3 linked regions of the Homo sapiens genome follow. The protein of the gene in region 1 purifies or fractionates together with the protein of each later gene. This does not show direct contact. Each region holds a gene or a part of one and is shown in the gene's direction. Other genes may lie near its edges.

Region 1 (3,827 bases):
CAGTTCTCCCACCTCAGCCTCTGGAGTAGCTGGGACTGCAGGCATGTACCACCACACCCATCTATGTTGTAAACTTTTTTTTTTTTTGAGACTGAGTCTCGCTCTGTCACCCTAGTGATTAAACTAGTTAACTCTCTTTCTGAGTATCAAAAAACCAATCTGATCATTGGCTTGTACTCTTCTTATGAGAATATGTTAAATATAATTATAATTAGGTTCAGGACTATAACTTCTGAGAAACGTCTATTTACATAGCAAATGAACAAATATTGTGCCTGTTACATGCCAATAGAACTTTAAGCTAGAAGTATTATGTTCATGTCCTTTTTGTTTTTTAATTCATGACCACCAGTAAATCCCTGGACATTCCCACCCACCACCTGGTGGTGGCATTTGCTAAAGGGAATAATTGCCACCTCCCTCAGAGGGTTGCAGTGAAAATTAAAAGAGATAATAGATGTGAAAGTGCTTTATAATCTTTCAAGTGCCAAACACACATAAGGGATTATTATAGTAGGAAATGGTGTCTTCCAAAGAGTAATCATTTAGACAATGTTATAAACGTAATAAATTATTGGTTTCCATATTCAAACCATGACAAGTTCTTGTAGCCACGATGAGACGGAAAACTAATAATTTAGTATTTTTAGTTGATGTGTTTTTTTGTTTTGTTTGTTTTGTTTTGTTTTTGGGGTTTTTGTTTTGTTTTGTTTTGCTTTTGAGACAGGGTCTTGCTCTGTCACCCAGGCTTGAATGTAGTGGCATGATCTCGGCTCACTGCGACCTCCGCCTCCCGGGTTCAAGCGATTCTCCTGCCTTAGCGTCCCGAGTAGCTGGGATTACAGGCCCGCGCCACCACTCCCGGCTAATTTTTTGTATTTTTAGTAGAAACGGGGTTTCACCATGTTGCCCAGGCTGCTCTCCAACTCCTGACCTCAAGTGATCCGCCTGCCTCGGCCTCCCAAAGTGCTGGGATTATAAACGTGAGCCACTGTGCCCGGCCGCTGATGTGGAAATATTAATTTCACATCCCATAGAGGAATATACAGTGTTTTTGATATTTTAAAGTCGTTTTAACAGTGAGCTGTCTAGAAATTCAACCATTGTCTGCAGATTTTCTTACGATTCTGAGCATCACCCAGTGCGCTAATGGAAGGCTGAGGCTACCCCTTCGCTCTTCTCATTTTTAAGAAACTTCCAGCTATCCTTCCCTCTCCTAGGAAAGCTAACGGAATGCAGGAGATAAAATGGTTTCAGATTACATCCAGCGTGATAAACTGTGTCCTTGTCTTAATCTCGTCCAATTCCCAAAACATTTCCAGCTTGCTGTGAGGAGTTACATTCAGTGGTACAGAATGAGCCAGGCAGGCGACGGCGACTTGTAGGTTCCCCATCCCTTTTCTGAGATGCCGCGGTCAGCTCTAGAGACCTCAGGGATAGCAACAGAGCTGGAGATGGGTTAGGGGAGGATGGTGAGGACTACAAAGGTCTCCCCACCTCCCGGGGGCCGCGGAGGCGGGGCTGGATGAAGGTCGACGTGCCTCCTCCGGGCGGGGCGCTGCCAGGCTCTCAGCCTCTCTGTGGAAGGGCAGCCTGCGCCTGGGTACCGAGGCTGCTGCGCGGCGGACAGCGGGCGCGATGTATCTCCGCAGGGCGGTCTCCAAGACTCTGGCGCTGCCGCTGAGGGCGCCCCCCAACCCCGCGCCGCTCGGAAAGGACGGTGAGTAAGGAGGTCTAGCCCGGAGAGGAGGACGGGCGCCTCGGGTGCAGATTTCGCCCGCGCCAGGGAACCGGCCGGCACCCAGTTGGCCAAACCCGACCCAGAGCAGCAGAAGCCTGGATTGGAGGTCGAGGAGACTGGGGGAGACTCCCGGGAAGACGTCCCGAAGCTCCTGCAGACTTTGGAAGTAGGGAACTTTTCCAGGGTGCCTCAGAGTCCAGATTATCTGGGTTCGCATCCTGATCTTGGACAAATGGCTTAACCTGTTTCCTCATCTATAAAATGAGGGCGATGATGGTTTTCCTTTTTAATGAGTTAATGTATGGTTAAAAGCACTTAAAAACGTGCCTGGCTGACAAAGTCGCAGCTTACCACTTTTATTGTTAGAGGCACCATTCGCTCTCCAATCTCCTGAGGAAGCAGAGGAACGGTGGGAAGGTGGACGCCGATCAGCGAGCGGGCCCGGCAAGCGCTGGGAGGCAGTGAGGCAGGGCCCGCTCAGTGGACGCTGGGCGAATGTTCGTGGGGTAAATAAACCTAACCCTTGGCAGGGTCTCAGCAGCCTGAACCCCGCGAGCGCCTGGCTCTGAGATCCACAACCCCCAAAAAGGAAGCGGCCTTCGGGACACTTTCCTTTGAGGTTGCACGTCGTCCTGCAACTGCTTGGCTCTGTAGTCCAAATATCGACACCTTTGGTTCTGAGGATACGCGAGAAAAAGCAGAATACTCAGCAATTAACTAAAGGGGGAGTTGCAGTGTGAACTGGAGGCTTATTAAATAAAAACGGACATATAGGAAAGCGCTTCGTATAGTGCTGGGAACATAGTAGGTGCTTAATAGGTGTGAGCAAGGAAGATTGTTTTTCTTCTGGGACCAGGCTTGCGCTCCAGGGCGGTTCTGCCCCAGCCGCTTTTCCCTAGTCCCCATCCGTCACCCCTCTCTCTTCCACTCACGACTGGGGGACGGCTCTTAGACAATATCGTGAAGGGTTCTTAATGCTCTCTTCACTTAGCCTCACTTTCTGAGCCTTCCGAGATAATTTTACCCCAGAGGGTGGATTCCAGCAGGAGAGAAAGATGTGCGCGGAGAATTCCATGGGCCGATTTTTTTTTCACGTTGATTAGGCCTCTGTTGGTGGTGGTGGGAGGGAAGGACGGAGGTCTAACTAACTCGCTTTATTTTTCTTGTAAAATGCTGGTGGAAGGAAGTTATCCCTCAAGTATCAGAAATAAGACATCTTCGTTTTCCTAGATCTTTATTGCCTTTATTTTTCTAGATCTTTATACCAAATGATATAGAGCTTTTAAATATATATATACACTGATGAAGTAGGGAGAAGCCATTTATTTTAAACTTCGGAAGATAACGGGACTGTTCTGTTGAGAACGGGGAGAAAGATTAGTCCTCTGACCGTGGCCTTTCGTTTTATCTGTCTGCGTTCCCCACCGACATCATGCGCGCGTGCACGCACACACAAACACACACACACACACGCGCACCTTTTTTTTGTAGCTGCAGAAATTCCAAATAATTTTCTTCCCAATTTGCGGCAAAATAGAAGTAGTTTAAAAATTTTAAATACGTATCTAGCAATGCTGCTTGTAAAGGTACTGGTCTTTCTCTGATTTTCATCTAACTATTTTTGCAGCACTTAAAATGTATTTAAGAACTATTATTGATTGGAAACAAATTTGTCTTCAGTCGTGGACATTACTTAACCTTTTGTTCATACTTTCTACTTTGATGAAAAATAATTTTTTTCAGTTTTATTGAAGGAAAAATTTTTAACTGTGTCTCATCACATTTTGTTCTCTCCTTTTTGCTTTTAAAAGGGTAATTTTATTTTTTTGAGACAGAGTTTCACTCTTGTTGCTCAGGCTGGAGTGCAATGGCGTGATCTCGGCTCACCACAACCTCCGCCTCCCGGATCCAAGTGATTCTCCTGCCTCAGCCTCCGGAGTAGCTGGGATTACAGGCACGGGCCACCACACCCAGCTAATTTTGCATTTTTAGTAGAGATGGGGTTTCTCCATGTTGGTCAGGCTGGTCTTGAACTCCCAACCTAAGGTGATCCACCTACCTCGGCCTCCCAAAGTGCTGGGATTAC
Region 2 (3,727 bases), on another chromosome or scaffold:
TCCCAGCTACTCCGGAGGCTGAGGCAGGAGAATCACTTGAACCCGGGGGGCGCGGAGGTTGCAGTAAGCTGAGATCGAGCCATTGCACTCCAGCCTGGGCAAAAAGAGTGAAACTCCATCTCAAAAAAAAAAAATTATTAACCCAACATAGGAGGTTATTTTCCTTAGATAAAGCTCATGCGTGGAAGCAATTGTATACAAAGACAGAATTATTTCCTATTTCAGTAAAATTTACAAACAAGCCTCAGCTAGTTCTCTGTAGGATCATCATTCTAGTCATTTTCAGAGTATCTTGCATTGAATTTCTGTACGTAAAATTATCTTAAGTTACTGAGAAAGTTTTATCAGATTTTACTCTGTGGTAAAATTTGTATATCAAACCTTTTATAGGTTCCCTGATTTCAAAATAATAGTAATATCTCTTAAATAGAATGTTAGTTTTTATTCTTTTTTATTAAATGTGTTTGTTCTAGAGGTCATGCTTAATGATTTCCAAGAGTATATTTTTTGTATAGTTTTTGTGAGGCTGGGCATGGTGGCTCACGCCTGTAATCCACATCTATAATCCCAACACTTTGGGAGACAAAGGTGGGTGGATTGCTTGAGCCCAGGAGTTCGAGACCAGCCTGGACAAGATAGTGAGACCCTATCTCTACACAGAATGAAAAAATTAGCGCACATCTGGGGTCTCAGCTACACAGGATGCTGAGGTGGGAGGATTGCTTGAGCCTAGGAGGTTGAAGCTGCAGTGAGCAGGGTTCACACCACTGCACTCCAGGCTGGGCAACAGAGCAAGACACTGTAAGATCAATCAATCAATCAATCAGAGATATCTTGATGTATCATTTAAGAATCATGATCAGATAAATGTACTCATTCTTGTATTTCATCATCAATGTACTTATATTTCTTGTCTTTAACAGTTTGTTATACAAAGAAAAGCTACTGCATTCAGTGTTCAGATTAAGTTATAACAATGCAATGACTTTATCATGAGCCATTCTCCTAATTCCCACTAATTGACACACATTCAGTAGATAAATTGTTGGATACTCTCAAACTATTCTATTTTTATAAAGGAGAAAATTTTAGATAATTATTAAATATTCAAAAATATACAAATTGAAATAGACATAATTTTTTTTTGTTTTGTTTTTTCATAGTGACAGGGTCTTGCTCTGTGGCCCAGGCTGGAGTGCAGGGGCGTAATCATAGCTCACTATAACCATGAACTCCTGGGCTTAGATGATCTCTTGCTTCATCCTCCTGAGTTGCTGGGACCACAGGCATATGCCAGCATGCCCAGCTAATTTTTTTTATTTTTGTAGAGGTAGGGTCTAGATTATGTTGCCAGGCTGGTCTCAAACTCCTGGGCTCAAGTGATCCTACTGCCTCAGCCCATCAAAGTGCTGGGATGTCAAGCCATGAGCCCGGCAGACATCAATATTGAATGTAATGATGTGAGCCTGTAGATGAATTGGGAAATGCTGGCTAAAACACTGCTTTTTTCATAGGTCCTAAAACTAGCTCTTAAAGTATATTTAATAAGCGGTAGAAATAGTCATTATTAACAATGGAATAAAAGGTTTTTTTTTTTAAAGAGTCTCAATCTGTTGCCATCTCAAAAAAAAATAAAAAATAAAAAATTAGCTGGGTGTGGTAGCGCATGCCTGTGATACCAGCTACTCAGAAGGCTGAGGCAGGAGAACCACTTGAACCTGGGAGGCGGAGGTTGCAGTGAGCCGAGATCGCGCCATTGCACTCCAGCCTGGGCAACAAGAGTGAAACTCTGGCTCCAAAAAAAAAAAAAGTGATTTGGCAGTATGAGTTCAAGAACCACAAAATTGTACACACTCTCTGACCAATTTTCTTTTTCTTTTTCTTTTATTTTGAGATGGAGTTTCGCTCTTGTTGCCCAGGTTGGAGTGCAATGGTGCAATCTGGGCTCAACACAACGTCCACCTCCCGGGTTCAAACGATTTTCCTGCCTCAGCCCCCCGAGTAGCTGGGATTACAGGCATGTGCCACCGTGCTCAGCTAATTTTTGTATTTTTGGTAGAGACAGGGTTTCTCCATGTTGGTCAGGCTTGTCTTGAACTCCTGACCTCAGGTGATCCGCCCGCCTTGGCTTCCCAAAGTTTTGGGATTACAGGTATGAGCCACTGCGCCCGGTCCAAATCACTTTTTTTTTTTTTGAGACGGAGTTTCTCTCGTTGCCCAGGCTGGAGTGCAATGGCGCGATCTCGGCTCACCGCAGCCTCCGCCTCCCAGGTTCAAGCGGTTCTCCTGCCTTAGCCTCCCTAGTAGCTGGGATTACAGGCATGTGCCACCATGCCTGGCTAATTTTGTATTTTTAGTAGAGAGGGGTTTCTCCATGTTGGTCAGGCTGGTATCGAACTCCCAACCTCTGGTGATCCGCCTGCCTCGGCCTCCCAGAGTGCTGGGATTACAGGCATGAGCCACCGTGCCCGGCCCAAATCACTTTTCTAAAGCACTTTGAAGAACAATATGTCTTCAGCACTTAAGTATTTCTTTGACAAACTTAATGCTACAAGTATTATTCTCACACTAAGTAATTGTGATTAAGATTTTTCAGGCTCATAAATGAAAGAAAAAGAAATTGTATAGTAACTAGGCAAGGGTGGAATGAGAAAAGACTGGAGGCGTGCCACTCTTCCTACTCAGAATTTTTTTTATTTTGAGACAGAGTCTCTCTCTGCCACCCAGACTGGAGTGCAGTGGCGCGATCTCGGCTCACTGCAGCCTCCGCCTCCCGAGTTCAAGTGATTCTCCTGCCTCAGCCTTCTGAATAGCTGGAACTACAGGCGCCCACTGCCATGCCCGGCTAATTTTTGTATTTTTTAGAAGAGATGGGGTTTCACTATGTTGGCTAGGCTGGTCTCGAACTCCTGACCTCAAGTGATCTGCCTGCCTTGGTCTTCCTACTCAGAAGTTTTAAATTCCTCCCTATTGTCTGAGACAATAGACCCTGTGAAGATACCTTTTTAACACTGAAAACCTTGAGAGACAGGACAGTAACATACTTTCAGAACATATTAATTGTGGGGGAGAAAAAGCAAAAAGCAGGTCCAGTAGGAATTCAGTAATATTTTAAAATGATACTCTGTTAAGTCTAACATCTATTATGCATTAAAAATATCAAGATATTATTGTGTACAGAGTGTACTTGATATGCATGGGAATTTGTGAACTCCTTAAGATCCTTGTGGAGCCTGCAGTTTCGGCCCTGCTAGTTTACAGTGGTCTTACAGGGCTGCTGTGCTATACAGATTGTACTGCACAATTCAGCTAACAGCCATTCATATAGACAGCAGTGAATCTACAGAGATCTGTATCCTGTGTACTTGGTGATGTCTAGCACATAGTAGGGACTCAGCAAATAGTTGTTGAATGAAAGTGTTTTATTTATTTATTTATTTATTGAGACAGAGTTTCTCTCTGTCACCCAAGCTGAAGTGCAGTGGCGTGATCTCAGCTCACTAGAACCTCTGCCTCCCGGGATCAAGTGATTCTCCCACCTCAGCCTCCTGAGTATCACAGGCATGCACTACCATGCCCAGCTAATTTTTTTCTTTTTCTTTTTTTTCTTTTTTTTGAGATGGATTCTTGCTCTGTCACCCAGGCTGGAGTGCAGTGGCACCATCTCGGCTCACTGCAACCTCGGCCTCCCAGGTTCAAGCAATTCTCCTGCCTCAGCCTCCTGAGT
Region 3 (3,500 bases), on another chromosome or scaffold:
TCTTTCTGGTTTTGAAAGAAAACTTTTATTAACCAAAGAGAGCCTAGCCCCTTGGGGTCACTTTGACTCTAAAATCTTTGACTCCATGACAGATCTAAGTTCTATGATAGGAAGCATTTCTTTATTCTTTTGGTGTGTGGGTTTAGTATAGAGTGTATTTCATTTATTTATCTATTATTATTATTACTTTTCTGAGATGGAGTTGCACTTTTGTTGCCCAAGCAGGAGTGCAATGGAATGATCTCAGCTCACTGCAACCTTTGCCTCCTGGGTTCAAGTGATTCTCCTGGCTCAGCCTCCCTGGGACTACAGGCACGCACCACCACGCCCTGCTAATTTTTTTTTTTTTTTTGTATTTTTAGTAGAAATGGGGTTTCACCATGTTGGCCAGGCTGGTCTCAAACTCCTGACCTCAGATGATCTGCCCGCCTTGGCCCCCCAAAGCACTGGGATTACAGGCGTGAGCTACCGCGCCTGGCCTATTTATCTATTTTATTTTTTTTTGAGAAGCAGTCCGCTCTGTCGCCCAGGCTGGAGTGCGATGGTGTGATTTCACTGAAACCTCTGCCTCCTGGGTTCAAGCAGTTCTCCTGCCTCAGCTTCCTGAGTAGCTGGGATTACAGGCGCCCGCCACCATGGCCCGGCTAATTTTTGTACTATTAGGAGACAAGGGATTTCACCATGTTGGCCAGGCTGGTCTCGAACTCTTGACCTCAAGTGATCTACCCACCTCGGCCTCCCAAAGTTCAGGGATTACAGGCGCGAGCAACTGCACCAGGCAGTATAGACTGTATTTCTACTACTTTTTTGGCTTTTGAACAAATTCAGTTGTTATACAGCTTTGAGATCAGAAATAATTTATTAGCTCATTACCTGTAAAGGAGCACAAGTTAGTCCTGTGGGGAACGTTTGAAGTCTTGGAGAGAAGATCTGCCTTTTTGTAAATAACTGGGCAACAGGAAGACATCCTGCCTCTTGTACCCCCATACCACTTCCTGTTGAATTAGCATTAGTATTAACTGCCTACAGAAAAAGCAGTGCTGAGGCTTTGCAGAACTAGCAGGAGCCGAAAGAGAACTGTGGGGCCCTTTGGGTCAAAATGGGTCATCTGCCATGGGAATAGATGTTGAAGAACACATCAAACTTTGGAAGGTGCTTCCTATGGCCCATATGAAACCAGTGTGAGATGCTGGGGTTTGCACGGGAATCAGCTGTGAGTGCTTATCAGGGGGTGATGGGTAAACCCAGGCCATGTGACTTCACAAAGCCTCTTCTTAGCTTATAACAGTCTGGGTCAAGTTTTCTTTAAAAGTAAACCAGCAAGTTTTGCCATCTGCCTTTGTTTGAGAAGAGATGGGACACTCATAAAAATTGCTTAAAATGGAAGTGGGCAGAGAAACCGTTGGCAGCCAGCCAGGGAAATTTTCTTTGTAAAGGGCATGTAAGCGAGAAGCTTGTTCTGGGACAAAAAAAGGGAAGAGTTCATTAAAGAAGAAAGAAAAAAGATGACGACAACAGTAGTGACTTTGGGAGATGAGACTCAGCCAGAGCTAATTATAGATTGCCTATTTAAGGCATTTTCATGTGACCAAATACAATCTGTGTCTTAAAACAAATTTAAAACATAGGTTAGAACTCAGGCAGCCAATTAGAGGAAGAAAGCAAGCTGTATTCTGTGTAAACAGTTGTCTCTCCAGCTGAGGCTTTGGGGCTCTTGTAAGGGGCTGGTGTTTATTGCAGGTGAGGTTCTAGATGAGCTGCAGTTTGCTCATTTAGAGACTGGCATCCACACCATCTCTTTTGAGCCCCACAAAAATTTGTTAAGTAAGCAAGTCAGTAAAATGATTTTCACTCCATTTTACTAGGGAAGGAACAATGGTTCAAAAAGACAATGGAACAACCTCAAAGATCATTTGATCGCAAGGAAATTGGACCAGAGAAGGAATTGGAACCATCTTCTGATTCCTGCTCCTCTCCTCCTTAACACAGTTTTTTTCAGGAACATGAAGAGAATTCTCAAGTTCTTTTGGGGAAACTTGAGAAAGAGGAGGAGAGATAATTTAGAACCACATATTTTGCTCCCAAAGTATAGGTTTCAAGATTATCCAGTTTACCCTGTCAAAGAACAAGAATCCGCCCTCCCCCATTTCTCTCCCTGACCCGAGCAGTGCACATGAGGCAATCCCTATTGACTTGAAATTATTGAATGGAGATCAGTAATGTCAAGTTGGTATTGCTTAATCAGACAGACTGTTGAACTCTATACTTTTTAAATGTTTGGCCATTTGTGGATGTTTATCAAAAGAGCCAGACTTAGATAAGACAGTCTACAGAAGAAAGCTCCTTTCCAAGAGATAGACATTATTCGCTATAATATAATGGCCCTTTAGGAAAAGAAAAATGCTTTTCACAGATTGGATTAAATTCATATATTAAACTAATTGTGTTATATTGTTGCATAATCGGTCCCTGGCTCAAAGTCATAATTATCAAGTCAACTAGAATACTTTTTTTTTTTTTTGAGACAGAGTCTTCCTCTGTCACCCAGGCTGGAGTGCAGTGGCGTGATCTCAGCTCACTGAAACCTCTACCTCCCCGGTTCAAGCAATTCTTTGCCTCAGCCTCTGGTGTAGCTGGGATTACAGGCCTGCGCCACCATGCCCTGCTAATTTTTATATTTTCAGTAGAGACTGGGTTGCGCCATTTTGGCCAGGCTGGTATCCAACTCCTGGCCTCAAGTGATCCACCTGCCTCAGCCTCCCAAAGTGCTGGGATTACAGGTGTGAGCCACCATGCCTGTCCTTGAGAAGATTTTTTTGTGTGTGTGTGACGGATTCTCACTCTGTCACCCAGGCTGGAGTGCGGTGGTGCAATCTCGGCTCACTGCAACCTCCACCTCCCTGGTTTAAGCAATTCCCCTGCCTTAGCCTCCCAAGTAGCTGAGATTACTGGTGCACACCACCACGTCAGGCTAACTTTTTTGTATTTTTAGTAGAGACAGAGTTTCACCATGTTGGCCAGACTGGTCTCGAACTCCTGACCTCAGGCAGTCCGCCCACCTCAGCCTCCCAAAGTGCTGAAATTACAGGCGTGAGCCACCATGTCCAGCTGAGAAGATTTTTTTTTAATAAGTTGATATTTGGAAAGATGCAGTCCCATACCCTGATCCTAAAACCAAGTAACAAATAAGAATAGGGCTGGGTGTGGTGGCTCATGCCTGTAATCCCAGCACTTTGGGAGGTCGAGGCAGGTGGATTACCTGAGGTCAGGAGTTCAAGACCTGCCTGGCCAACATGGTGAAACCCCATCTGTATTAAAAATACAAAAATTAGCCGGGCGTGGTGGCACACGCCTGTAATCCCAGCTACTCGGAAGGCTGAGGCAGGAGAATTGCTTGATCCCAGGAGACGGAGGTTGCAGTGAGCTGAGATCGTGCCAACACGGGCCTGGCCGACAGAGCCAGACTCTGTCTCAAAAAACAAAACAAAACAAAAAAGAAC

Evidence for each region.
Region 2: the proteins of MGARP (region 1) and ZYG11B purify together in Homo sapiens (co-immunoprecipitation; 2 studies listed by BioGRID and IntAct, with this or other methods). This does not show direct contact.
Region 3: the proteins of MGARP (region 1) and SLC25A25 purify together in Homo sapiens (co-immunoprecipitation; 2 studies listed by BioGRID and IntAct, with this or other methods). This does not show direct contact.

The regions. Positions count from the first base shown.
Region 1 is NC_000004.12:139,277,970-139,281,796, reverse strand, and holds the start of MGARP (protein MGARP), read left to right. Parts: upstream 1-1,571; 5' UTR 1,572-1,638; coding exon 1,639-1,720; intron 1,721-3,827. UniProt on the Homo sapiens protein: Plays a role in the trafficking of mitochondria along microtubules. Regulates the kinesin-mediated axonal transport of mitochondria to nerve terminals along microtubules during hypoxia.
Region 2 is NC_000001.11:52,732,855-52,736,581, forward strand, and holds part of ZYG11B (protein zyg-11 homolog B), read left to right. Parts: intron 1-3,727. UniProt on the Homo sapiens protein: Serves as substrate adapter subunit in the E3 ubiquitin ligase complex ZYG11B-CUL2-Elongin BC. Acts to target substrates bearing N-terminal degrons for proteasomal degradation with the first four residues of substrates being the key recognition elements.
Region 3 is NC_000009.12:128,071,232-128,074,731, forward strand, and holds part of SLC25A25 (mitochondrial adenyl nucleotide antiporter SLC25A25), read left to right. Parts: intron 1-3,500. UniProt on the Homo sapiens protein: Electroneutral antiporter that most probably mediates the transport of adenyl nucleotides through the inner mitochondrial membrane.